Linked DNA regions of Homo sapiens. The protein of the gene in region 1 purifies or fractionates together with the protein of each later gene. This does not show direct contact. Each region holds a gene or a part of one and is shown in the gene's direction. Other genes may lie near its edges. The genes, in order: INSYN2A, RUNDC1, PRUNE1, IQSEC1, EFL1, OPA1 and CAMKK2.

Evidence for each region.
Region 2: the proteins of INSYN2A (region 1) and RUNDC1 purify together in Homo sapiens (affinity purification with mass spectrometry; 2 studies listed by BioGRID and IntAct, with this or other methods). This does not show direct contact.
Region 3: the proteins of INSYN2A (region 1) and PRUNE1 purify together in Homo sapiens (affinity purification with mass spectrometry; 2 studies listed by BioGRID and IntAct, with this or other methods). This does not show direct contact.
Region 4: the proteins of INSYN2A (region 1) and IQSEC1 purify together in Homo sapiens (affinity purification with mass spectrometry; 2 studies listed by BioGRID and IntAct, with this or other methods). This does not show direct contact.
Region 5: the proteins of INSYN2A (region 1) and EFL1 purify together in Homo sapiens (affinity purification with mass spectrometry; 2 studies listed by BioGRID and IntAct, with this or other methods). This does not show direct contact.
Region 6: the proteins of INSYN2A (region 1) and OPA1 purify together in Homo sapiens (affinity purification with mass spectrometry; one large-scale study listed by BioGRID and IntAct). This does not show direct contact.
Region 7: the proteins of INSYN2A (region 1) and CAMKK2 purify together in Homo sapiens (affinity purification with mass spectrometry; 2 studies listed by BioGRID and IntAct, with this or other methods). This does not show direct contact.

Annotation. Positions count from the first base shown.
Region 1 is NC_000010.11:127,134,930-127,137,591, reverse strand, and holds the end of INSYN2A (inhibitory synaptic factor 2A), read left to right. Parts: 3' UTR 1-2,162; downstream 2,163-2,662. UniProt on the Homo sapiens protein: Component of the protein machinery at the inhibitory synapses, probably acting as a scaffold. Inhibitory synapses dampen neuronal activity through postsynaptic hyperpolarization.
Region 2 is NC_000017.11:42,983,565-42,987,064, forward strand, and holds part of RUNDC1 (RUN domain-containing protein 1), read left to right. Parts: intron 1-2,086; coding exon of another isoform or gene 2,087-2,092; intron 2,093-3,500. UniProt on the Homo sapiens protein: May play a role as p53/TP53 inhibitor and thus may have oncogenic activity.
Region 3 is NC_000001.11:151,011,449-151,014,948, forward strand, and holds part of PRUNE1 (exopolyphosphatase PRUNE1), read left to right. Parts: intron 1-3,500. UniProt on the Homo sapiens protein: Phosphodiesterase (PDE) that has higher activity toward cAMP than cGMP, as substrate. Plays a role in cell proliferation, migration and differentiation, and acts as a negative regulator of NME1. Plays a role in the regulation of neurogenesis.
Region 4 is NC_000003.12:13,070,630-13,074,806, reverse strand, and holds the start of IQSEC1 (IQ motif and SEC7 domain-containing protein 1), read left to right. Parts: upstream 1-1,377; 5' UTR 1,378-1,792; coding exon 1,793-1,815; intron 1,816-4,177. UniProt on the Homo sapiens protein: Guanine nucleotide exchange factor for ARF1 and ARF6. Guanine nucleotide exchange factor activity is enhanced by lipid binding. Accelerates GTP binding by ARFs of all three classes.
Region 5 is NC_000015.10:82,147,735-82,151,234, reverse strand, and holds part of EFL1 (elongation factor-like GTPase 1), read left to right. Parts: intron 1-3,500. UniProt on the Homo sapiens protein: GTPase involved in the biogenesis of the 60S ribosomal subunit and translational activation of ribosomes.
Region 6 is NC_000003.12:193,610,208-193,613,707, forward strand, and holds part of OPA1 (dynamin-like GTPase OPA1, mitochondrial), read left to right. Parts: intron 1-3,500. UniProt on the Homo sapiens protein: Dynamin-related GTPase that is essential for normal mitochondrial morphology by mediating fusion of the mitochondrial inner membranes, regulating cristae morphology and maintaining respiratory chain function.
Region 7 is NC_000012.12:121,244,710-121,248,209, reverse strand, and holds part of CAMKK2 (calcium/calmodulin-dependent protein kinase kinase 2), read left to right. Parts: intron 1-2,969; coding exon 2,970-3,070; intron 3,071-3,500. UniProt on the Homo sapiens protein: Calcium/calmodulin-dependent protein kinase belonging to a proposed calcium-triggered signaling cascade involved in a number of cellular processes. Isoform 1, isoform 2 and isoform 3 phosphorylate CAMK1 and CAMK4. Isoform 3 phosphorylates CAMK1D.

The DNA of each region.
Region 1 (2,662 bases):
CTTACGTAGTCAAAGATGATAAGTAAAAATTTTCCCCCACCCCCGATCTGCAAGTAATACATTATCAACCTGCGAGATGGCAGGCTGTCACCCTGTACACAGCTATAACTCATAATTATTTTCAAGCCTTGATTTTTTTTTTAAATAATGAGAAGAAAAAGCAAGCCTTATGTTTGCGAAGGACTTCATTTTTATGTTTCATTTTGCAAATAAGCAGGGGGCGAGTGCAATTTTCAGCACATCAAATTCCGGAGAAAGCACAATTTTTTCAAGTGGTCGGAGACCATGAATAATCTCTAAAATGTGACTATATGTATATTTGCCTTCATGTGCTATAGCGCTAAGCCAAGTGACCACATCTCAGTGTCACAACGACACCTCAAATTTAGCATCCTCTTCATCTCCAGACTTACGACATGTTTACTGCTCATTTTCCAAATGGCCAGCAGCCAGGAGTCCCCCAAAGTCAGGATATGCCTTTAATCACTGCAAGTAGACAGGGTCAGAGCTATTGGACACTAAGTTTTCTTAGATCTCATTTTTAATCTTTTGGTACCCAAAGGCCAAATAATACATTCTGGCAAGAATCTGAGAACATACATAGAGATACACGATGGATAATCCACCCACCAATAAATCACAGGCATTCTGTGCCATGGCAGACAGTGTTTTTGTGGATCGATCCTCCGAGACACTGTTAGCCATGGTAAGTGCAGCCAGACGTTATGTACAATTCGTTATGCTTTGTATTAATGGTGGAAGCCCTGACCATCTCAAAGAGAAACAGTGCGTTTAGTTTAGCTGCTACCAAGGGACAATGTCGCCTACATTTAACCTATTAGTAAGTTGTACTAAACAACATACTTAGGGGAAAGCTGTGAATCAAATGTTTTTAGGTATTTTTTAAATCAACAGTAACACTTAGAGTTCTCTCTTGATTACACATTGCAATGTAAATCTTAGTTCCTTTATTTTTTCACTCATTTCTTTGCACCTTTGCAAGTATCTTTTTATAGAAATCAAATCCCCTAGTCTATTAATGACTTTGTCTATCAATTTTTTGATTTTCACAATAGGAAGTAGGGATCTTACTTTGCCTTTTTTTTTTTTTTTGTACAACTTAAATTTTGAATAGTTTGTGAGCATACAGGAAAACCTAGTCTTGAAGTTTCTGTCCAGCAGTTTCACATCTAGTGGAGTGCTGACATGCACACCTCATTGACTAGATGCCAAACACACAGTGGCTAACCTTGGTAAAAGGATCTCACCTGCTTTTGTCAGATTGGAGCTGCTTCTTGCCATGTATTTTCCTCCTGACTCAACAGCAAATCTGTTTTAGTTCTAAGTGTTTTGATTCTACAAGGACCTAGTGATCAGTAACCAGATCGGGCCTTGAAAAAAAAATGAAGAGTATGTCGTGTAAACATTCTTCGGGGGCCAAACAACACTGCAGTTGTATGCTTTAATTTAAAACACACATGTGCACACACACATCCTCTGCGGAAACACTATATGAAGTTCGAATCCCTGAATATCAATAAAAGGAACTGAGAAATATTTTGGTGCAAGAACAATGAGGAAGTTGATCCTGTAACATGAAGGAAGTGTAACTGTTTCACGTAGACTAAATATTTAAAAATGGGTTTCATGTTTTTTATACTGTTTTTAACTAAAGTTATAAAAATGTTTCCAACAAGTTCTCTCTCCTTATGTTTTAAGAATCCCAACTATCTCAGTAAATTGAAATAAGGGTATTAGCAGTTTTCTAATTAGTAACACAAATCTGTCTAAACAAGAGGACATCCTAGTACACAAAATAATGTCACTGTTTCACACCAGTCTAGACCAAAAAAAAATAAAATTAAAATGTTCAGAGTCAAAAAGGAACTTCTGAAGATAAATTAATTCATCCCTAAAAATTAAAGTGTGTTCAAAATAGAAAAACTATTGTCAAAATCATTTCATAGTTTAATTGCAACACGTCACTAACAGATGGTGATTCTTCTCTTGGAAAGATTCAAGTAAAAACGCTGATACAAAAGCAAGGTAAAACGCACAGGGTTCCCTTATGTAGATGTACACATGGCATTGCATATAGAGATTAAATTATTATACTTGTCGTTAAGTTCTTTATTAATTTTTAAATAAAAAAATCAAAGATGTTTTATGTGGCTATTAAACTTATTTCATGGCCTCAAAAATTGGGGAACATAAAAGTAATCTAAGAAAATAATAATAAAGGAAGAATGTTTGGGCCGATAGGCATTTCATCCGGTCTGCAGAAGACAAGAGCATCGTAAGGCCTGGGCCTGACCCACCAGCCAGAGCTGGCCTGGCTTGGGGAGGGAAGGGACTGACGCTTGCCCACCTATGCACCCTGGCATGGAGTTTCACCACCGGAACACATGGTGGCATTTTAGGATGCACACAGGCTCATAGCAGGAGGTATATGAGGTTTAATTCTTAACCTCAGAAGAAATGGCTAAATACATTGAGTGTTGCCACAGTACACTGTGGCATGTAAATCTTGCCTCCATGGCCCAGGGGAGGTAGCTTCTCTCTAGATCTTCCATTGAGCACATCCCCAGCCTCAAGGGATCAGCCGCCTCCTTCCTTTCTTCTTCCCCTCCCTAGTGGGAGATAGGCTGAGCGCCTACCTCTC
Region 2 (3,500 bases), on another chromosome or scaffold:
GTTTCACCATATTGCCCAGGCTGGTCTTGAACTCCTGGGCTCAAGCAAGCCACCCACCTTGGCCACCCAAAGTGCTGGATTACAGGCATGAACCACTGTACCCCGCCAATTTTTTTTTTTTTCTTGAGACAGAGTCTCACTCTGTCGCCCAGGCTGGAATGCAGTGGCACCATCTTGGCTCACAGCAACCTCCGCCTCCTGGGTTCAAGCGATTCTCCTGCCTCAGCTTCCCAAGTAGCTGGGACTACAGGTGCCCGTCACCACGCCTGGCTAATTTTTGTATTTTTAGTAGAGATGGGGTTTTGCCATGTCGGCCAGGCTGGTCTCGAACTCCTGGCCTCGAACGCCTGACCTCATAATCTGTCCGACTCGGCCTCCCAAAGTGCTGGGATTATAGGTGTGAGCCACCGTGCCCGGCCCTAAATTTTTATTTTCCACTCTGTTGCCCAGGCTGGTGTGCAGCAGCATGATCACAACTCACTGCATCCTCAACCTCCTGGGCTCAATCCATCCTCCCAGCTCAGCCTCCCAAGTAGCTGGGACCACAGGCGCACACTACCATGACTAGCTAATTAAAAAATATATTTTTTCTGTAGAGGTGGGGCTCTCCCTATGTTGCTCAGCTGGTCTCTGACTCCTGGGCTCAAGCCACCCTCCCACCTTAGCCTCCCTAAGTGCTGGGATTACAGGCATGAGCCACTGCACCTGGCCCCCAGTTTTTTTTTTTTTTTTTTGAGACAGAGTCTGGCCCTGTCACCCAGGCTGGAGTGCAGTAGCATGATCTCAGCTCACTGCAACCTCCACCTCCTAGGTTCAAGCTGTTCTGCTGCCTCAGCCTCCCTAGTAGCTGGGACTGCAGGCATGTGCCACTATCCCCGGCTAAATTTTGTATTTTGAGTAGAGACAGGGTTTTGCCATGTTGGCCAGGCTGGTCTCGAACTCCTGACCTCAAGTGATCCACCCACCTCAACCCCAAATATTTTAAACCAATATTTTCTCTTATCTTACTTCATACTGGAAATGATTTATGTTATTTCCTGCTTTGCACCAGAGCTCATTGTTCTCTCTTGTTTGCCCACACTCCAGCAAATAGCATATCGTAGCTACCATGGCAAGTGACAGAGTTCAACAGACTTGGTCATGAAAATGGAATCAAAATTTATGGCTGATTTCTTTCTTCCCTGACATAAAGTTGGGTAACAGTGAGAACAAAAACAAAAGACTTTTCCACAGTTCTTTCTCCTTAGGCTGGTTAGACAACTTTCTCCACTCAGAGTTCATTATTTGGAATTTGTCATTCTTTTCTTTTTCTTTTTCTTTCTTTCTTTTTTTTTTTTTTTTTTTTTTTGGACACAGAGTCTTGCTGTGACACCCAGGCTGGAGTGCAATGCTGCGGTCTTGGCTCACTCCAACCTCCGCCTCCTGGGTTCAAGCCATTCTCCTGCCTCAGCCTCCCAAGTAGCTAGGATTACAGGCACGTGCCACCACACTGGGCTAGTTTTTGTAGAGACGGGGTTCCACCATGTTGGCCAGGCTGGTCTCGAACTCCTGACCTCAGGTGATCTGCCTGCTTTGGCCTCCCAAAGTGCTGGGATTACAGGCATGAGCCACTGCGTTCGGCCATACTTTCCTTAATTCAGTTCAGTAACATACAACAAATGCATGTTGAGAACTTATCTTGTGCCAGACACTGTGCCTGGCATTTGTGGTTCAAAGTCAAAACCTTTGTCCTTAAGGAGTTCATAGACTAGAAGAGACAGAATCCTAAACAAATAATGTGATATGAGCTAGACTAGAAGTGTGAACAACCTCTAGAGGAAATGTTTAGTTATGCCTGGGGAAATCAGGAAGCCTCTTAAAGGAGAACTAGGCCTTCACCAAATGGGGAAGTGGGATAGGGTTCTAACAGTATGCAACTGCGCTCTGAAAGGATTACAGAGGGACTGCCCTGAGAAAAGGCTTGCTTTCATGTTGAGCAAAGTTAAAGCAAGAGGATTGCATTTTAAATACTTAAACAAAAAGTTAATTTGTTGTTTTCTTTTTTTTTTTTTTTTCATTTCTTCTCTCTCATTACTTACTTCTTCAGGGCTTGGTAAGTACCGTTTTAAGGTTAAATGTAATACGCTGTAGACTTCTAGTTTAAGACGCAGCCTTGCCCCTACAAATGATTTGCTGGTTTTGCTTTTTGTTTTTGAGACTCAAGAAAGACAAGGAAGAACCAGTGTTTGAGAATACGTTGACAAGACTTTACCACCCTGAAGCATTTTTATTAGTTGAAATGCAGAAACTACTGGTGGCCAACAGTTGAAAAAGGAGTCACTAGTCAGCAAAACTTACAGATACTTTTTTTTAAAAACGTTGTTACCTTCACATCCCCATTATGTGGCTTTTGGTTTTTTTTCACTGGCCTAGGCACTTGCCTTTTACTCTTTTGTTTTTGGTTTTGGTTTTTTGAGACAGAGTCTTGCCCTATTGCCCAGGCTGGAGTGCAGTGGTGAAAACAAAGCTCAATGCAGCCTCAACCTCCTAGACTCAAGCCATCATCTTGTCCCAGCCTCTTGTGTGACTGGGACCACCATGCCACCACGCCTGGCTAATTTTTTTTTTCTTTGAGACAGGGTCTTGTGAAGCCTTGACCTCTTGTGCTTAAGCAATCCTCCCGCCTCGGCCACTCAAGTAGCTGGGACTACAGGCATGCACCACCATGCCCAGCTAATTTTTAAAAATTTTTTTGTGGAGATGAAGTCTCACTGTGTTGCCCAGGGTGGTCTCGAACTCCTGGGCTCAAGTGATTCTTTTGCCTTGGCCTCCCAGAGTGCTGCAGTTACAGGCGTGAGACACCACTCCTGGTGCGTTTGATTCTTTTGATTTTTCAGAAGTGGTCTATCGTACATCAAAGGGACTTTGGTGAACCTTAGGAAAGCTGGTTATGAGTTTTTTTCTTTTTTTTTGAGACGGAGTCTCGCTCTGTCACCAAGGCTGGAGTGCAGTGGCGCGATCTCTGCTCACTGCAAGCTCCGCCTCCCGGGTTCACGCCATCCTCCTGCTTCAGCCTCCCAAGTAGCTGGGACTACAGGCGCCCGCCACCACACCCGGCTAATTTTTTTTTTGTATTTTTAGTAGAGACGGGGTTTTACTGTGTTAGCCAGGATGGTCAATCTCCTGACCTCGTGATCCACCCGCCTCGGCCTCCCAAAGTGCTGGGATTACAGGCGTGAGCTACCGGGCCCGGCCAGCTGGTTATGAGTTTTAAAGCCTCTCTCCACACCCTTACCCCAGATTCTTTTGCAAAATTTGGCTGCACAGAGTAATCAGGAGTTGTGTTATGGTAACTGGCTGTGGAGAATGGCATGTCTTAATTCCTGGGAGGCTATCTTGGCTGAGATAGATTGTCTCTACCCTAACTAGACCTTTGGGGGAAAAAAGGCAGTCTTAACAAAAAGCCTCATTGTATTAATATCCTATTTCCAATGAGGGACAGATAGTTTCTTAAAGAAAAC
Region 3 (3,500 bases), on another chromosome or scaffold:
ATAATGTAGTGTGTGCAGTTCTCAGGCATGAGGCAGGAATCAGGAGCTGGCTCTCCTTAGAAATTTGCAGTCCTGGCATCAGTATTGTTCCTGTTTTCTCTGCTGAGAGGGTTTGTCTCTCTCTGGCTTTCTGTCTCGTTTATTTTTCTCCCCCATTAACTATTCTGAAGAGTAGTTATCATACCATATTCAGCTTTAGAAGGGAAGTGGTTTACTTTGCCAGGCCTAGAATCCCCTCCCTGCCCCCTCCTCTTGAGGCCACAAAGAACATATCAGGATAAGAGAGTCATTTCAACTAGTGGGTGTTTATTCATTTATTTATTTTAATTAATTAATTTTTTTTTTTTTTGAGACAAAGTCTCGCTCTGTCACCAGGCTGGAGTACAGTTGCATGATCTCGGCTCACTGCAACCTCCGCCTGCCAGGTTCAAGTGATTTTCCTGCCTCAGCCTCCCGAGTAGCTGGGACTACAGGCATGTGCCACCATGCCCAGCTAATTTTTGTATTTTTAGTAGAAACGGGGTTTCACCATGTTGGCCAGGATGGTCTCAATCTCTTGACCTCGTGGTCGGCCCACCTCGGCCTCCCAAAGTGCTGGGATTACAGGCGTGAGCCACCGTGCCTGGCCAACTAGTGGGTCTTTAAAAAAAAGAAAAAAGAAAAAAAGTTTGTATTTATTTACTTGTGGCCCTCAGATTGTATTTTTTCCATTGGCAGCTTAGATTTCCTCATGCTGCTAAGTATAGCTGTATTTTCCCTGAACTCTTTCTCTGATGGTCAGAAAACTGAGGCTGTTTGGCTTGTGCTTTCAGCTGGTGGAGGATGGGCTTGGAATTAGGGGTTACACATGTTTTTCTTAAATAAAGAAGAGAATGATGTCTTATAAGTTGGGCAGCCCCACACACGGTTTGCCCAGGGCAGTCTTGGTTTTCCCCTGTGTAATCATTAATAGCACCCCTTTTCATTCTCATAAGCGTCCCAGTTTGAACAATCAAATATATAGTCACCCACCACATAAGCCATGTTAAGGATCAGGGATACATGACCATGAAAAGACAGGGAGCTCCTTAAGATAGAAGTTAAGGTCTGTCTCAGAGCCACAAGTGCTAGAAGCTGGAGGTTTAGAGGAAGAGGATTTCTCTGGGCTGGGTGTTCAGGAAGGCTTCACAGAGAAAGACATTAGGTAGACTTGAACAACGGGGAGAAGTAAAGAAAGAAGATGGGAGATCACATCTTTACTATTTACAGCGTAGGCACTTATGGTACTATCTCATTTAATCCTCCTAACAACATCATGAAATTGGTTACGATATTATTCTCATTTTTTTTGTTTGTTTTTTTGAGATGGAGTCTCACACTGTCACCCAGGCTGGAGTGCAATGGTGGGATCTCGGCTCACTGCAACCTCCGCCTCCCGGGTTCAAGCAATTCTCCCTGCCTCAGCCTCTGGAGTAGCTGAGATTACAGGCACCTGCCACCACACCCGGCTAATTTTTGTGCTTTTTAGTTTCACCATGCTTGCCAGGCTGGTCTCGAACCCCTGACCTGAGGTGATTCGCCCACCTTGGCCTCCCAAAGTGCTGGGATCATAGGTGTGAGCCACCGCGCTCGGCCTATTCTCATTTTTATATGAGGAAAATGAGGCTTAGAGGGTCCAAAGTCCTGCAACAAGTAAGAAGCAGAGCTGGAATTCAACCCCAAAGTCTGTGATCTTTTCAAATAGTAGTTCTGCATTCAAACAGAGAACAAATAGTGCAAAGGGCAGAGCTGGGAATGTGCACATCATGGTTTGCGGGTGGTGAATAGTCCAGTCAGGCCGGGGTGACAGTGGGTGTTGACAGGGGAGAGGAATGCTGCTGCCTCCCTTGGTCACTCCAGTTCCAAGATTTGCTACAAGTCCCAAAGTATTCCTTTTGTATTCATTCCTTTTGGTTACTGTCTAGGTTTGGCTGAGCGCAAGGGGTTCATTGTTCACCTTCCTCTGTAGATGGTTTCTCCTGACTTCAGAACCATACCACTGTATTTGGTCCCTACTTTGTGCTTTTCTGCTTAGCATTCTCTTCATGGTAAGGATCTAACTGAACCTGATTCAGCTGCTGCTTGCAGTGAAGCAACACTGATGTAAATAAGCGTGGAAAGGTTCTCCAGCATCTCTTTGGACCCTGCAGTAGGTCTCTCCTGCTTGCTCTGCCTTTTCTCCACTGCTCTTATGTTTTTCCTCCAGTCAGGGCCATATGCCTCATGTTTATATAGTTTCCTCTCTAGAGAACACTCGCTCCCCCTAACTGCTTCAGTGAGCAAGTTATTTCTGCAGCCTCTTATCTCAAGTGCTTTGCTGTCACTTTGGTCCACAGCCATTTGGGCAGTTCTTGGTCTCCAGGAAACAGAGGTCTCTGGTATCAGGAGGAGGAATTACAAGTCAGAGGAGTTACTATAGGACTGGGGTATTGGGTAGAATTCTTACTGCTTTGGAAAAAAGTAAAGAATCCCCCTACCCCAGTGCTGTTCAGTATGAATGGGCCTTTGCTTCCACACTTTTTTTTTTTTTTGAGACAGAGTCTCGCTCGGTCACCCAGGCTGGAGTGCAGTGGCACGATCTTGGCTCACTGCAACCTCCGCCTCCCGGGTGCAAAAGATTCTCCTGCCTCAGCCTCCCGAGTAGCTGGGACTACAGGCACCCGCCACCACGCCTGGCTAATTTTTTGTATTTTTAGTAGAGACGGGGTTTCACCAGGTTAGCCAGGATAGTCTCGATCTCCTGACCTTGTAATCTGTCCGCCTCGGCCTCCCAAAGTGCTGGGATTACAGGCGTAAGCCACCGCGCCCGGCCTGCTTCCAAACTCTTGAAGTAGACTTAGAGAAATAGGCATGGGGAGGACCTCAGGGCAAACTTCTTTAGGGGCCCTTTGGGCAGAACCCGGACAGATAACCTCTGTCTTCTGTATTTCTCTCCAGGGATGGGAGTAGGAGATGGCGACGAGGGTGGTTTAAAAACAAAAACCTATCTCGTAACTGGATGGGGCAATTGATACCACCAGAAGTCTTCTAAAATTGCCCTTTTTGAGCTGTGGCTTTCCAGTGGGGGAAGAGAAGAGTGATAGCCTGTATAGGGAAGATGATTCTAGGTTTCCCTAGATTCCCTTTTTTTCTTAAAGTTACATTAGTTGATAACTATTCTTTGCTATGTGTTACTCCTCTGAACCTTCCCACTTTGCTAAACTCTTGAGTCTAGCAAATCTTCCCTGATTGAAGAAGTCAGACTATATGGATTTTCACCTTCTTGTAACCCAGTAGTTCTCAACTGGGGGCAGTTTTGCCCCCCAGGGAACATTCAGCAAGTCTGGAGACATTTTTGTTTGTCACGACTTAGGGTGCTACTGGCATCCATGTGGGTAGAGGCTAGGGATCCTGCCAAATATCCTATAATGCACAGGACAGCCTCCACAAAAAAAGAATTATCCGGCTGGGCATGGTGGCTCATGCCTGTAATCCAAGCATTT
Region 4 (4,177 bases), on another chromosome or scaffold:
GGTGAGTGTGAATCTGGAGAGAATGGAAAGAGGAAGGGAAATGGCCCTGTGGGCTGCCATCCACATCCAGCCGATTCCCAGTCTCAACTACTCCCTCTCTCATTTATTCCTCCCAGTGAGGCAGCTTTCAAGCAGTCAAGAACCAAGACTCTGGAGCCAGACTGCCCGCCAGCTATGTGGCTTGGGCCAGTTGCTGAACCTCTGGCTTTAATGCGCTCCCCCGTGAAGTAGGATGATAGTATTAGGCCTCATTGGGGTTGTCTTGAGGATTACCGTGCACGGAAGAATATTATCTACATGCCTCTGAGATAGGTCTGGGATTCCTGGTTTACAGATGAGGAAGCAGAGAGGATCAGATGAACATCAGACAGGAAGAGAGAAATCTGTGTGGGAAAGGCGGGTGTGGGAGCCGAGGATGGATGTGCGCTTCTCCCCTCCACCTCCCTGTCGCACACTGCACCACGCTGGCCTCCTCTGGGCCAGTCAAATACACCAGGCTGCCTTCCGCCTCAGAGCCTTGACGCCAGCTCCTCCCCTGCTTCTTGCGTCATCCGAGTCTCAGCCACACGTGCCTCACAGAGGGCCTTCCCGACCACCCCGTCTGATGGCAGAAGCCTCCTTCCCGCCTCTCTTGGGGTCCCTGCCTCCCCTCTTCCTGCTCTCTTTTCATCCTGATCCTTATCACCACGTGCAATCCTATATCTGCACACTTACTTCCTGGCTTCCCCTTAGACTGTAAACATCATGAGGGCAGATACTTGCCCGGCACATGGAAGGTCCTCGGGAGAGGAAGAGGCACCATAGCTAGACCAGAAATTCTCCCTAGCCACGTGCAGCCCCCTTTGGGACAGGACTGGCACAAACGAGGACTGCTCTGCCATCCACCGTGCAGCTACTGGCGTGGTGCGCCCTCCTGGAACCCCGTGGTATAGCTGTTATGATCCCTTTCACAGTAGCATAATCAAGACTCCCAGGAGAGACGCGGCTTGCCAAGGTCTCATCGCCCTTCAGTGGCAGAGACAGCCTTGGAGTCGGCCGGCCTCACTCCAGGGCCAGAGCCCCGAGAGCTCCGCGGCTCGCGTGTCTCAGTGCCGAAGGCAGAAAAGCCGCCTTGGAAAGTAGTGTCATCGTAGGCTCCGCGCGGCGCGTGCATTTTAGCAACAGACTTCCAGGTTTCCAGCGCGGGCCAGGAAGGGGCCGGCGCCCCGCGCCCCGCCGGGTGTGTGACTTTGCCGCGAGGGCGCAGCCGAGCGGCCGCGCCTGATGCTGCTGTTGCCATGGCGACCAGCGCCTCGGCGATTGGTCCGGCGCGGCCGCACTACGTTGCTCCTTGGGCGCGGGGGGTGGGGGAGGCTCCGGCGCGCCCGCCCCTTCTCCGGATGCTGCGAGAGCAAACCCGGGGCAGCCTTCTCTCGACCCTCCCCTCCTCATCCCCGCGCCCCGCACCCCGGATGGACGGGAGGGAAAAACCCCAAGGTGGGCCCAGGTAGCAGCGAGGTGGACGCCCCCGCCCAGCCTGGCGACCACGGTTACTCGACGTCCTCGCTCGCTCCTGGGCACGGTGTGAGCGCGCGCTACGTGCCAGGGCCCTCCACAGCCCGCTGCTGGCGCCGCCCCCCGCTCCCGCCCCAGCCTCCCTGGAGGAGCCCGCCACCCCCGGGAATGTGACTCGCCCCGCGATTTAATTTTATTCCCCTCCACTTCTTGCCTGAGCCGCCTGCTCCTCTTGGAAACACGTTGAGCCTCCCCGCTGGAGAGGGAGCCAGAACAGGGAAGAACGGATTCACACAGGATGGCTTGCAGAAGACGCTATTTGTGAGTATATGTGGCAGGTTTCTGCCTGAAGCCAGAGGCCAGAGGGGCCCGGCTGAGCTGGGAGCTGGAGTGAGGGGCATCGTTGGGGGAGGGGCAGGTGGATGTGCAGGTGACTTGCAGAGGGAGCTGGCCACCCAGCAGGGATGCCGGCGCTCGGCCCCTGCAGCGGAGGTGTTTGTTGGTGATGACGATGAGAAAAAGGCTATTAGTCAGCAGGTCTTCAGCAGGCTGTGAAATTCCCAACTGTGAGAGCAGGTATCCCCCCTCCCAGATCCACATTCAGGGTGCCCAGACCGGCTCCTACTGTTTTGGCTTTGGTTTAGCCCATAGCCTGTTTAGGAAGAGAATCTCTGCCCAGCACGCCCATGGCCAGCCCTTCAGCCATGCCTGATAGAAGGTCGCAGGCAGGCTGAGGCAGTGGCCAGGATGCTGCGTCCTCCAAGGGCAGGTGAAGGTCCAGCCCACCGTCCCTAGCACGGAGGCATCAGTGTCCAGCTGTGTGCCCAGGTGTTCTGTGGGCTGGCAGCAGAGCGGCTGTGTGCTGGGCCTCACGCCAGCAGCAGAGGCTGTGAAAGTCTGCACGGGGCGGTGACATCACGGGCCCGGGTATTTATGGAAACCAAAGCCTGCGCTTCGGTTAGCCAGGCTTCCCAGGGGGCAGTGGGGTTCGAATGCCAGCTTCCCTCACAGCTCTCTGGGCGCTGCACTGTGCTGTTCTAGGAGGAGCAACCTTTGCCCTCCTCTGGGACCCTCGGCTGCGGGGGTTGAGGCCCAGCGTCAGGTCTCCACCTGCCTAAACTATTTGCCCAGGACCCACTCATTTGGGGCTGTGCAGTGACCTCAGACCTTAGGAGGTTAGAGAGCATGGCTGAGTCCTCTTGAGCTGGGCTCAGTCGCAAGGCTAGGAAAAGGAGGCCTGGAGCAGTATGTGGGGAGCCTTCTGGGGGCTACCCCAAGGCCTCCCTAATCGATGGAGGCCCCTTACCATGGCAGGGGCCTGTGGAACCCCTGATAGAGTGGCAGCTCCCCGTCACCTCCACTGAGGGAAAGTAAACACACCTCTGCCTCTGCTGCGTCAGCAGTGCCAGGCGGCAACCCACGGGGGATGGCGGTGGCCTCTGGTTCGGGGGATGGCGGTGGCCTCTGGTTTGGGGGATGGCAGTGGCCTCTGGTTTGGGGGATGGCAGTGGCCTCTGGTTCAGGGAATGGCAGTGGCCTCTGGTTCGGGGGATGGCGGCCTCTGGTTTGGGGGATGGCGGTGGCCTCTGGTTCGAGGGATGACGGTGGCCTCTGGTTCGCTGTGATGCTCACTTGCTTTTTTAGTGGAGAAGCTCACAGGTTGGTTTGTCGATGCGAGCAGAGCACACCAAAGTTCTCACTCCCTGTGGCAAGGCCCTCGCTGCATTTTCTGAAACAAATAGTAAATCCTTTCCCAGCGTGGAACTTCCACCCCAGTGGCTGGGAATAGGTCCTCCTGAGACAGCTGTCTCCTCCCTGCCACACCTTTGCCTGGGCCCAGGAGCCTGATGCCAGAGAAATTCTAAACTCTCAGGGCTGTTACATCGGGGAGGGGAGATGTCATGAGGATGAAATGTGACAATTCATATTCAGATTACTTGGCCCAGTGCCTGCTTGCCTCCAATGCTCAGAAATGTCATCCTCACAAAGGCCTTGTCTGGGCAGGCACTAAGAACCCCATTTTAGAGATGGGGAAACTGAGGCTCAGCACAGTTCTACTGGAACCCTGGAGTATACTAGCCTGGGGTGGGGGTTGTAGCCCAGGAGCTATACTGGAATCACTTGAGGAGCAGTTAAAGAAACAAACAAAAAAAAAAAAACAAAAAAAAACTGTGTGGGTCCCACCCCCAGACATTCTGGTTTCTAGGTTTGGGGGAGGGCTCAAGCCTCAGGATCTTTTTCATTTTCCGGATGATTTTAATGTCCAGGTGTGGTTGATGTTCCCGTGATGCAGCTATTCACTGTGGCTGCGTTGCCCAAGCCTATCCAATTGCAGTTTTGCAGGGACAATGTTCTATATGGATTCCAATACTCTTCCCTGGAGAGTCTGCTTCAATCTGTTGGGGGCCCAGCCACCTGCATTTGAACACGTGGCTCTGGTGGATTTGCTGATTCCTGGAATAAGCTCGTCTAGCCTTCCTGCCTAAGAGAGGGGCTGGCCCGAGGGGGCTTAGCGCTCACTGTCTTTCTTTTCTGTGGGTCTTTTCACTCTTCTCCAGCTCTCAGGCTCCCAGTCTGAGCATTGTGACTCCCAGGCCATCCCCGCTCTGCCACCAAACCTATTGGCACCAGAAATACCAAAGATACTTGGAGGGGGTGGCTCTGTTTGTACGCAAGGATCTTG
Region 5 (3,500 bases), on another chromosome or scaffold:
TTTTGTGTTTTTTGTAGAGACTGAGTTTCGCAACGTTGCCCAGGTTGGTCTCGAACTCCTGAGTTCAAGTGATCCACCCACTTTGGCCTCCCAAAGTTCTGGGATTACAGGCGTGAGCCACTGCACCTGGCAGACCCAAAAATCTTAAACTCGTTTAGTATGTTTTGCAGAAGCTGTACCATCTTCTGATTTACTAACAAACTAAGATCTTTGAAAGCCAGATATCTTAAGTATTAAAATCTTGAGAGGGGAAAAACATGACTACTAAAGATCTTTTCTTTTGCAACAAATAGAATCCTTTCCGTAATGAGAGGTCTGCTAAATGAGGTTTAAACTGCTCATATGTGTTACCATCCAAACCTGTGCCATATTTTATCTCAAGCAAATAACCATATCAGTCTGGGTAACCAAAGTTGTTCTGAAAATGATCAAAGAATAAGGCAACATTCTTGTACTCATAACACAAAAGGGCTTTTGTGAATTCTGGGTTCTTTCTGAGAAAGAAAATTATTTGGGGCTTTATTCACTGCTAACCATTATATCAAATCCTATTCCTGATTTTTCTCTCTTTGGGAGAAGCAACCTTTAAGATCCCAGGAGACATGAAGCCCTGGCACTTAGTAGCTCTTTGGACTTTTCACTGGTATTAGTTCACTGAGACTTAGTTTCTTTACATAGGTAAAGAAAGGGGATAATAATTCATACAGATTGTGAAGATTAAAATAACACAATTTTTTTAAATACAGTGCCCAGAACAGCACCTGGCACACAGTAGTTCTCTTATTCTCTCAAGATCATGGAACTGTTTCAGTAGTGAAGAGAATATAAAGGAGGATTGAGCCCTGGATGAGAGAATCGGCCAAATTATTAAGTTTCCTCTAACCCTGAGGCCCTTTGAGTCAATATGTGGTTAATTACATTCTTTTTAGGAAGGTTCTTTTGCTGATTAATTCCTGAAAGCAGAAATCTAAGTTTGTTTGTTTTTTTTCCCAAAAGAAATTTAGGCTTCCATCACATTAAGGTTTTTGTGAGACTGAGCGTCATTAGCAGCATTTGAAAAATAGCTGGGTTAAGGCCAGTATGCATTGTGAATCAAATCTCCAAATACAGCATGTCATATACAGTGCTTTTCAACCTTATTTGAATATAGCATGCCTATTAACAGCCATGGAATTTGTAGATTTGTTTGGGAAACACCAATCTAGACTATTCTCAGATGCTATTTTTCATTTTCATTGAGAACTTTCTTAAGGCGGAAGTAAGAGTTAAAATCAAATCTTAATCCCTCAAATCTTTGAAGAAGACCTAAGAGCTTTTCTCCAGCCTCTCCTACCCCGACAAATGCTTATACCACCACTATTTGAATACTTCTATTGATGGCCAGTGCACAGCCAGCTTCGTGATTTAATGGTGTTTTTTTCTATATTGAGCAAAATGTCTGTCACCTGCTAGTTTCCAATCATCTGTACCACCATTCATCTCTCTTCCATGCAACAACTCTTTTATGTATTTGAAATAAATCATTAGTTTTCTAGTTTTATATCCAGGAGAAAAACTCCAAATCCTTCACCTGTTTTTCTGTTAGGATTTCTGTATCCTTTCACCATTTCAGTTGCTGTCTTTTGGACATAATTTATTTGGTCAGCATCCCTCTTAAAGCAACTATATTTGAACACAGCACCTCACATACCCTCCAACCAGTAGAGAACATGTCTGTGTCTACACTGTTACCTCCTACATGAAATACAACATTCTTCTTTTAATGAAATTTAACAATTACGTCTTCTCATTAATTCATATGAGAAGTCAAGATCAACCCTATTTCTTTTTTTTCAAAACAAAGTTATGTTTTCCCACTCTGTTCCCCAAAAAGCAGAATCCAAATTTTTGGTAATTGACTAGACTGTAGAAATCATGTAGTTGTATGAACTCCTATATTTATTTGTGTATGAGTACTGAGTCTATACACTTAATTTTTTTCTTATGAGTACTGAGTCTATACACTTAATTTTTTTCTTAAGTTATATAACATAATTAGCATTACAACAGTAAACAGGAGAAAAATTTTAATGGCAAGAAAAAGAAGTCACATCACCACCATCTTAACACATTGATTTCTTATTCATTTTTTTCATGTGTCCTTGTCTGATGAGAAATAAAACTCAACAGGTAGAAAATCAAATGTTTCGATGAAGTTACGGTCCTTTACATCTATAACAGTCCCCCAATTATCAGCTTACCAATCATGTTAGAAAAAAAAAAAGCTTAGGTTAGTATTTTGTATTAGAAAGTCCATGTTGTCTCCCAAGATTTACCTCATACTTGTATAAACATGTACAAATGTCTATAGTGTTTCCTTAAAATTCTACAGAAAATTAGCATATGGCTTTCTAGTCTGCAATTTATGGAACGCAGTGTTTATATCCTCAAAAAGTTTAGTCATTATTTACCTTTTTCCTATAGTCTGGCACCTACCTTACTATTCATAATTTCTCAAAAGGGCAAATTCTCTTATTATGGTGAGATATAATTCTGGTCCTGGAGACTTGAACTCATTTAAGAAGGCCAAGCACTTAGTCATCAACTGCTGAGCTACCGTGAACTTCAGTGTTCTCCCACTTCAACTTGTTCCACTTGCTATAGTTTGTTCACCATTCTCCTCACTGAAGAGAAAGATAGGTAACATAGGTATTGCGAACCCCTATTTTCTTGCTATCCTCTGTAACATGATACTAGTTTCTATAAGTTGTAGACAAGACATGTCTCCTTATTTTGAAAGTATAGGTTGAGTATCCCAAATCTGAAAATCCAAAATCCCAAATCATCTAAAATTTGAAACTTTTTTTTTTTTTTTTTTGAGATGGATTCTCACTCTGTCACCTAGGCTGGAGTGCAATGGCATGGTCTCAGCTCACTGCAACCTCCACCTCCTGGGTTCAAGCAATTCTCCCACCTCAGCCTTCCGAATAGCTGGGACTACAGGCGCATGCCACCACACCTGGCTAATTTTTATATTTTTAGTAGAGACGGCATTTCACTATGTTGGCCAGGTTGGTCTCGAACCCCTGACCTCATGATCCATCCGCCTCAGCCTCCCAAAGTGCTGGGATTACAGGCGTAATCCCACCCTGCCCAGCCTTTATTTTTTAATTTGGGATGCTCAAACAGTATATAATACAAATATGCCAAAATCTAAAAAAATAAAAAATGTAAAACACTTCTGGTCCCACTCATTTTGGAGAAGAGATATTCAACCAGTATTGGAAAAAGCTCTTTGCACTGTCTTTAGCTCTTTTACTTTGGTACATACACTCAGCTTGTTTTGATTTTGAGCATCTTGGACATGCTACTGATCCACCTGAGTTGGTATCCTCTTCTTCCTTCTACTGTGCATGTCCTCTTAAAATAGGGGTTGAGGAGGGGCTTTCTTCCTTCTTCTGTCATTGAGATCATTCATGATTGATTTCTTTTAGACTCTCATTACTCTGCAAAGGAATTTT
Region 6 (3,500 bases), on another chromosome or scaffold:
GTTTTTGGTGTGGATGTCCTTTCTGTTTGTTAGTTTTCCTTCTAACAGTCAGGACCCTCAGCTGCAGGTCTATTGGAGTTTGCTGGAGGTCCACTCCAGACCATGTTTGCCTGGGTATCAGCAGCGGAGGCTGCAGAACAACGAATATTGGTGAACAGCAGATGTTGCTGCCTGATCGTTCCTCTGGAAGTTTTGTCTCAGAGGGGTACCCGGCCATGTGAGGTGTCAGTCTGCCCCTACTGGGGGGTGCCTCCCAGTTAGGCTATTCGGGGGTCAGGGACCCACTTGAGGAGGCAGTCTGTCTGTTCTCAGATCTCAAGCTGTGTGCTGGGAGAACCACTGCTCTCTTCCAAGCTGTCAGACAGGGACATTTAAGTCTGCAGAGGTTTCTGCTGCCTTTTGTTCGGCTATGCCCTGCCTGCAGAGGTGGAGTCTACAGAGGAAGGCAGGCCTCCTTGAGCTGCAGTGGGCTCCACCCAGTTCGAGCTTCCCAGCTGCTTTTTTTACCTGCTCAAGCCTCCGCAATGGCGGGCACCCCTCCCCCAGCCTCGCTGCCACCTTGCAGTTTGATCTCAGACTGCTGTGCTAGCAATGAGCGAGGCTCCATGGGCATAGGACCCGCTGAGCCAGGCGCGGGATATAGTCTCCTGGTGTGCTGTTTGCTAAGACCATCGGAAAAGCGCAGTATTAGGGTGGGAGTGACCCAATTTTCCAGGTGCTGTCTGTCACCCCTTTCCTTGGCTAGGAAAGGGAATTCCCTGACCCCTTGTGCTTCCTGGGTGAGGCGATGCCTCGCCCTGCTTTGGCTCATGCTCGGTGCGCTGCACCCACTGTCCTGCACCCACTGTCTGACAATCCCCAGTGAGATGAACCCAGTACCTCAGTTGGAAATGCAGAAATCACCCGTTTTCTGCGTCGCTCAAGCTGGGAGCTGTAGACTGGAGCTGTTCCTATTTGGCCATCTTGGAACCGCCCGATTGTGATTTAAAATGAGAACGAGATGGTCCCTTTGGTTCCTGGTCCCTGTAACTGTTGCAATTGAAGGGGCATAAGCTTATTAGCCTTTTGAGGTTTTTTTTGCTCTAGAGTCTTCTCAAAATGCTTAGCTAGGTTGGGCACGATGGCTCACGCCTGTAATCCCAGCACTTTGGAAGGCCAAGGTGGGAGGATCACGAGGTCAGGAGATCAAGACCATCCTGGCTAAGATGGTGAAATCCCATCTCTACTAAAAATACACAGATTAGCTGGGCATGGTGGCACACGCCTGTAGTCGCAGCTACTCGGGAGGCTGAGGCAAGAGAATTGCTTGAACCTGGGAGGCAGAGGTTGCAGTGAGCCGAGATTGCGCCACTACACTCTAGCCTGGGTGACAGAGCAAGACTCCACCTCAAAAAAAAAAAAAAAAAAAAAAAAAGTTCAGCTAAGGCCACCAATTCAGTCACATCTCTAACTTCCCATTGCAACTTATGTTTTTTAGTTAAACTGCTAAGTTCAGGATGGAGTCCATTTATAAGTAAAGCAGTTAATGCTGTTTCAGCCCCTGCAGGGAATACTCCTTGCTGTACTTTGAGCCCAGGATGTTTCACAAATATTTCTAAGCGACTTCTGTAATCTGAAACTGGTTCATCTTTTCTTTTCTTTTTTTTTTGCTTACAAGATTGTATGATGGACCAATTTTTTGTGGAAAAATTTTAGGAACTGAATGTTAAAAGGTTTTCAGCGATTTTTCTAGCTATTTTTGGTCCTTCTTGTGAGGAGCTCTTAGAGGGCCCTTTAAAATGTCCTCCTCAGGTTTGTCCCATTCTGCTGCTGCCATCCATTTCTGAGCTTCACCAGCCCCCAGTATCATATGAATAAATTGGTAAATTCATGAAGTCCTGGATCGTAAGCTCCTATTAGGATTCTAAATTCCTCAGTAAATTTTTGAGACTTTTCCCTTGGACCAGGGAAGTCCTTCACAATGGGGCTAAGCTCAGTTTTAGACCATGGAGTGAAAGTAGTTACAGCAGGCAGGCCTGGCTGATATAAGGTCTCACTTTGTAAGACATCTGTCTAACTTCCTTTTTTTTTTTTTTTTTTTTTTAAATCATCTTCAGGGTGAAAGTGTAATTTAACAAAAAGTTTAGTGGACTCAGAGTATGTAGGTAGAGATGGACAAAGAAGGAACAGTCCGAGTTAGATCAGTCAAAGTACAGTCCTCTTTCTTCATGTCCTTGGTCTGTTGCTTAAGCTTTTCATTTGGTTTTTGCAAAGAATCTTTTAAGGAGGCACTTTTTGATTCACTTAGTCTTTTGGAGGCCTTTGCGTATCCATGAGACAATACATCCCACTGTATTTGTGGGGGCTTTGATCCCCTTTTTCTAATATGCCTTGCAAACAATTTTATCCAAATTAAAACTTCTCCATTGTGGCCATTTTAATTCTAAGTTTTCTTTAGTGAGGTTAACCCATTTTACTGAAAATGCACATGTTCTGGGCCCATAATTTTTATACGTAAAATTAGCTGGAGTCCCTGAAGATGGAGTCCCAGACTCCTTGGATTGAGATGATCCCATTATTAAATAAGGTACTTATCAGAGGTCTGAGGCCTCTAACTGAATCCAATCCAGTTAATTATCAAATCCAATTTGATCTTGGATCCAGTCCAGGCTAAGTATTGCTTGAGTAAACTCGGAGAGCTCAAAACACAAGTTAGTGGAGCTCGGAATCTGAGAGAAAACTCACCCATGACCTCCAGTTACAATCAAGAGACCAGTGAGAGCAACGGCCTCAGTGGGTACCTCACCAGGTCACCTGGTGTTCCAGGGGGTTGCCAGAGTTTTTCTTCAAATCCCACTTCTGACACCAGATCTGTTAAAAGAAAACTTCAGACAAGTTAAATTTGATGGAGTTTAATTAAGCAAGGAAAATAAACACTTTGCAAATCAGGCAGCCTCCAGAATTGAATGCAGTTTGAACACTTAGCAGTCTATTAGTGCTTGAAGTATGGCCACTGGGATTGGCCAACACTCAGCTATTATTACAGATGCATACTACTCAGGTTTTCCATTTTGTCTGCCTATTGTGCTAGGTTATGGTTTGTCCACAAGAACACAAATATAGAAGTATGGAGTCCTTCTCAGGCCATATTTAGTTTGCTTTAACAATACTTAAAAAAAAAATTTGTAAAATAAGGATACTTAACCTTACTCGGTGTTTCTGAGAGTTAACATTTATATAGTTATGCTGTAGTGAAAACAGCTAGCGTAATGTCTGGTATGTATAGGAACACAAGAGATACCGCTTTTCCCATATCCCCATACCATTCTTCACAGCATTGCTCCTGTCTTCCTTGATTCCTCCTCCTCCTTCTTTGTTTTTTTTTTGTTTGTTTGTTTGTTTTTTTTTGGAGGTGGAGTCTCACTCTGTTGCCCAGGCTGGAGTGCAGTGGTGTGATCTCAGCTTACTGCAACCTCTGCCTCCTGGGTTCAAGTGATTCTCCTGCCTCAGCCTCCTGAATA
Region 7 (3,500 bases), on another chromosome or scaffold:
CCACCAGGGGTAGGGGCAGGGACTTCCACGCACACACTCAGAAAGTTCTGCCCATCTCCTGAGAGTGAGAATTGCTTAGGAGCAAGTAGGTCCCCTTTTATGGCCTTGAATTTGGATCCTGACCCAGGAAGAAGGAGCCAGAATGTAGAGTCCTCAGGCCTAACCTTGGAGGCTCTGGGAATCGCCACTGACCAAGTCCCTGTCCAGGAGGGCAGTTAGCTCCAAGAGAGAGACCAAGAGTCCCAGGGATCCAGGTTCCAGGCAGCAGGCTTGGGGACAGAGACCAGCAGGTTGTCCCACCACAGCCACCTCGAAAGGCCTGGTTGCAGTTGGCCAGCACTAGTCCCAGTGGGCCGGCGGGCCCCTGGGCTCTGGGAGGGACCCTTGAGACTGGCTGGAAAGGCACAGAAGGTCCAGCTGTGAAGGATTGCCCCTGTAGGAGCCCAGATGCTGCTCCTGCTCCTCCAGCTTTGCACCTCTCTTCTCTGCTTCCCCACACACTTCCTCTCTCCTCCTCCCAAAGCTGAGCCCTGGCTGGGGCATCCATCCACATCTTCCTCCACTCTTTCCCCACCTGGGGCTGTGCAGGACCTTCACTGTTGAAGACCCACCCACACCCACTCACCCTTCCTCAACCACCCCTTGTGCCTGTAGACGAGGAGACAGCTGGCGTCGGACTCTGCACCCACCGTGGGTTACTGTGTTCCAGGCTCAGGAGGTTCTCAGTCCTGAATCAGTTGCCCTCCCTTTCCTTCCTGGGTCTCTGGGACGGGTTCTTGGGAGAAAGCGTCTGGCCCTGGAGGTCTGGAGTAGGCATTCATTATACGGGAAACACTTGTTGAACACCGAGTGGTTTCTCAGGCCTGTGCTGGGAGCAGGGGCTGGGTGGAGTGATGAACAAAACCCCCATGGCCTCTGCCATGCTTGAGAGGCAGATGCTGGTCAAACCAACAAATGTATGTACAGTGCAGTAGAGGGACCACAGGACATGCCCCTAATGGAGGCACACTTGGACCCACTGGGAAGAAGTGGATAGACACCGAGAGGATGGTAGGGTGTTAACTCCGCCGAGAGAGGGCGGACGGGCTAACACACTGGGTGGGGCCACTGAAGCAGGGCAAGGAAGGTGGAGGGAGGGTGTGGCGAGGTTTTACATGTTTACTCCAAGAGCATGGGTTTGAATCAGGGTTTGAACCAGGGCAGCTGGAGCAGGGATGGGCGGGTAGATACTGGGAAGTGGTCTGACTTGGGACAAGATGGCAAGGTCCAGGCCCCCTGCATGTGTTCATCATTTAGCAAACACGGAGCAGCCAGTGTGTGCCAGGCATAGGTGTCAAAGATGAGCTTAGCCCAGTGCCTGCTCTCAGGGGTAGGGGGCTGGGGGGCTGGGGGAGGGGCTCCTGGCCTTATAAGAAAGATGGACCTGGGAAGAATCAGCCTCCTGTGTGATCAGAGGCCAGTGCAGAGAGATGCAAGGGCTGGGGGCTTCACAGAGGAGGAGCTCCTGCTCTGGGTTGACAAGGCCACAGGGGAGGCGGCAGGGTGGGCTCACCTGGGGAGTGACATCTGCTCAGACACAGAGGAAAGAGGGGCTGGCATGTCCCAGTGACTGTAAGAACCTCAGTAGGGGAAGAGGCCTTCATTCTCTCTCTCTTTTTTTTTTGAGATGGAGTTTTGCTCTCGTTGCCCAGGCTGGAGTGCAGTGGTGTGGTCTTGGCTCACTGCAACCTCCGCCTCCCAGGTTCAAGCAATTCTTCTGCCTCAGCCTCCCATGTAGCTGGGATGACAGGTGCCTACCACCATGCCCAGCTAATTTTTGTATTTTTAGTGGAGACGCGGTTTCTCCATGCTGGCCAGGCTGGTCTCAAACTCCTGACCTCAGGTGATCCACCTGCCTCAGCCTCCCAAAGTGCTGGTATTACAAGCATGAGCCACCACGCCCGCCTCCCCCCCCCCGCTCCTTCTTTTAAATTGAGGTAGAATTCACATAACATAAAATTAAAGTGAACAATTCAGTGACATTTGGGACATTCACAGTGACATGCAATTATCTCCTCAATAGTTCTGAACATTTTCATTACTTCACACCCCCGCCCATCAGCAATGACTCTCCATTCACCTCCCCCCAGCCCTGGCACCCACTCACCTGCCCTCTGTGTCTATAGATTTGTGTATTCTGGTGGAATCCTACACTCTGAGGCCTTTCGGGCCTGGCTACTTTGACGTAGGAGAAGGTTTTCAGGGTCCGTTTGTGTTGTAGCATGGATCAGTGCTTCACTCCTTATGGCTGAATCATGTTCCATTGCACAGACAGACCGCTTTGAGTTTATCTTCTTCAGTTGATGGGCATTTGGGTGTTTGCATCTTTTGGTAAATCAGTGTTTCTTAAACACTTATTTTTCTTGTTAGCAGCAAATGCTTAAAAAGTCAGAAGCTCTGTGAATTCCCAAAACAGCTTGAAGGGGCACCGTGCCCTGGTTGGGGTGGGGTGAGGGGCCCAGTGACTCTTATGGGGCCCTCAGGCCATTCCCTTCATGGGAAATGGCAGCCAAGAGCATCACCAAGAATGACTGGTTCACGTCCTTGCTCCAGAACTTTCCGGGGCTCTCTGGCTGACCACAGGCCAAGTTCCAGACCCCTCTGGGTGGGGATGCTGAGTCAGGGAGTGAGGGGACCAGATCTGGGTTTTGGAAGGGATGGGAGGGAGGGAGGTGGAAAGCAGGGAGGCCTGGGAGAGACGCTGAGCAGTGGCTGAGGGTGTGGTGCAGGACAGCACCTTTTCCCAGAGGATTCTTTCGGCGGGGGTTGGTTGCGGGGTGGTGCTGCCCAGTTTCTCTCAAAGTCTGCCATCGGTCACCAGCCCTGGGAGCTGGCAGGGGCTGGGGAGAAGGAAGAGGGAGGATGTTGCCCAGAATCGCCCCCACATGGCCAAGCAGTTGCCTGCCACCTCCTCTTTTCTCCCTCTTCAGATCCTGGTGAAGACCATGATACGTAAACGCTCCTTTGGGAACCCATTCGAGGGCAGCCGGCGGGAGGAACGCTCACTGTCAGCGCCTGGAAACTTGCTCACGTGAGTGGCCGCCTGCCTTCTTGGGTGGGGGAGTGGTGGCTGGAGGCTAGGCTTGGGGCAGCCCTGCCCAGACCACTCTGCACAGGTCCTCCCTGAAGTGGTGCCATCTGGAGAGACTCAGATGAAACCCACCTGGTGCACTGGGACAGTCAGCACCCCAACCTGGGCTCAGCCCACCTCCTTTTGCTGACAGCTAATCCACCTGAAGTTTACCTTTCTCGGGAACTTGCACTGTAGCTGGGGGGCTCTTGGTCAGTCAGAAGAAAAGCACTTTTGTGGCCCGGGACCGTGAGTGCCTGATGGGGAGGTTTGAGGCTCTGTGCTGGGCGAGCAGTGTGGTCTCACTCAGGACCCTGTGTGTCCATGCAGAGAGGTGTCCACTCATCTGCTGTCAACGCCACCCTGGCTCCAGCTCTATGAAGCTGGTGTT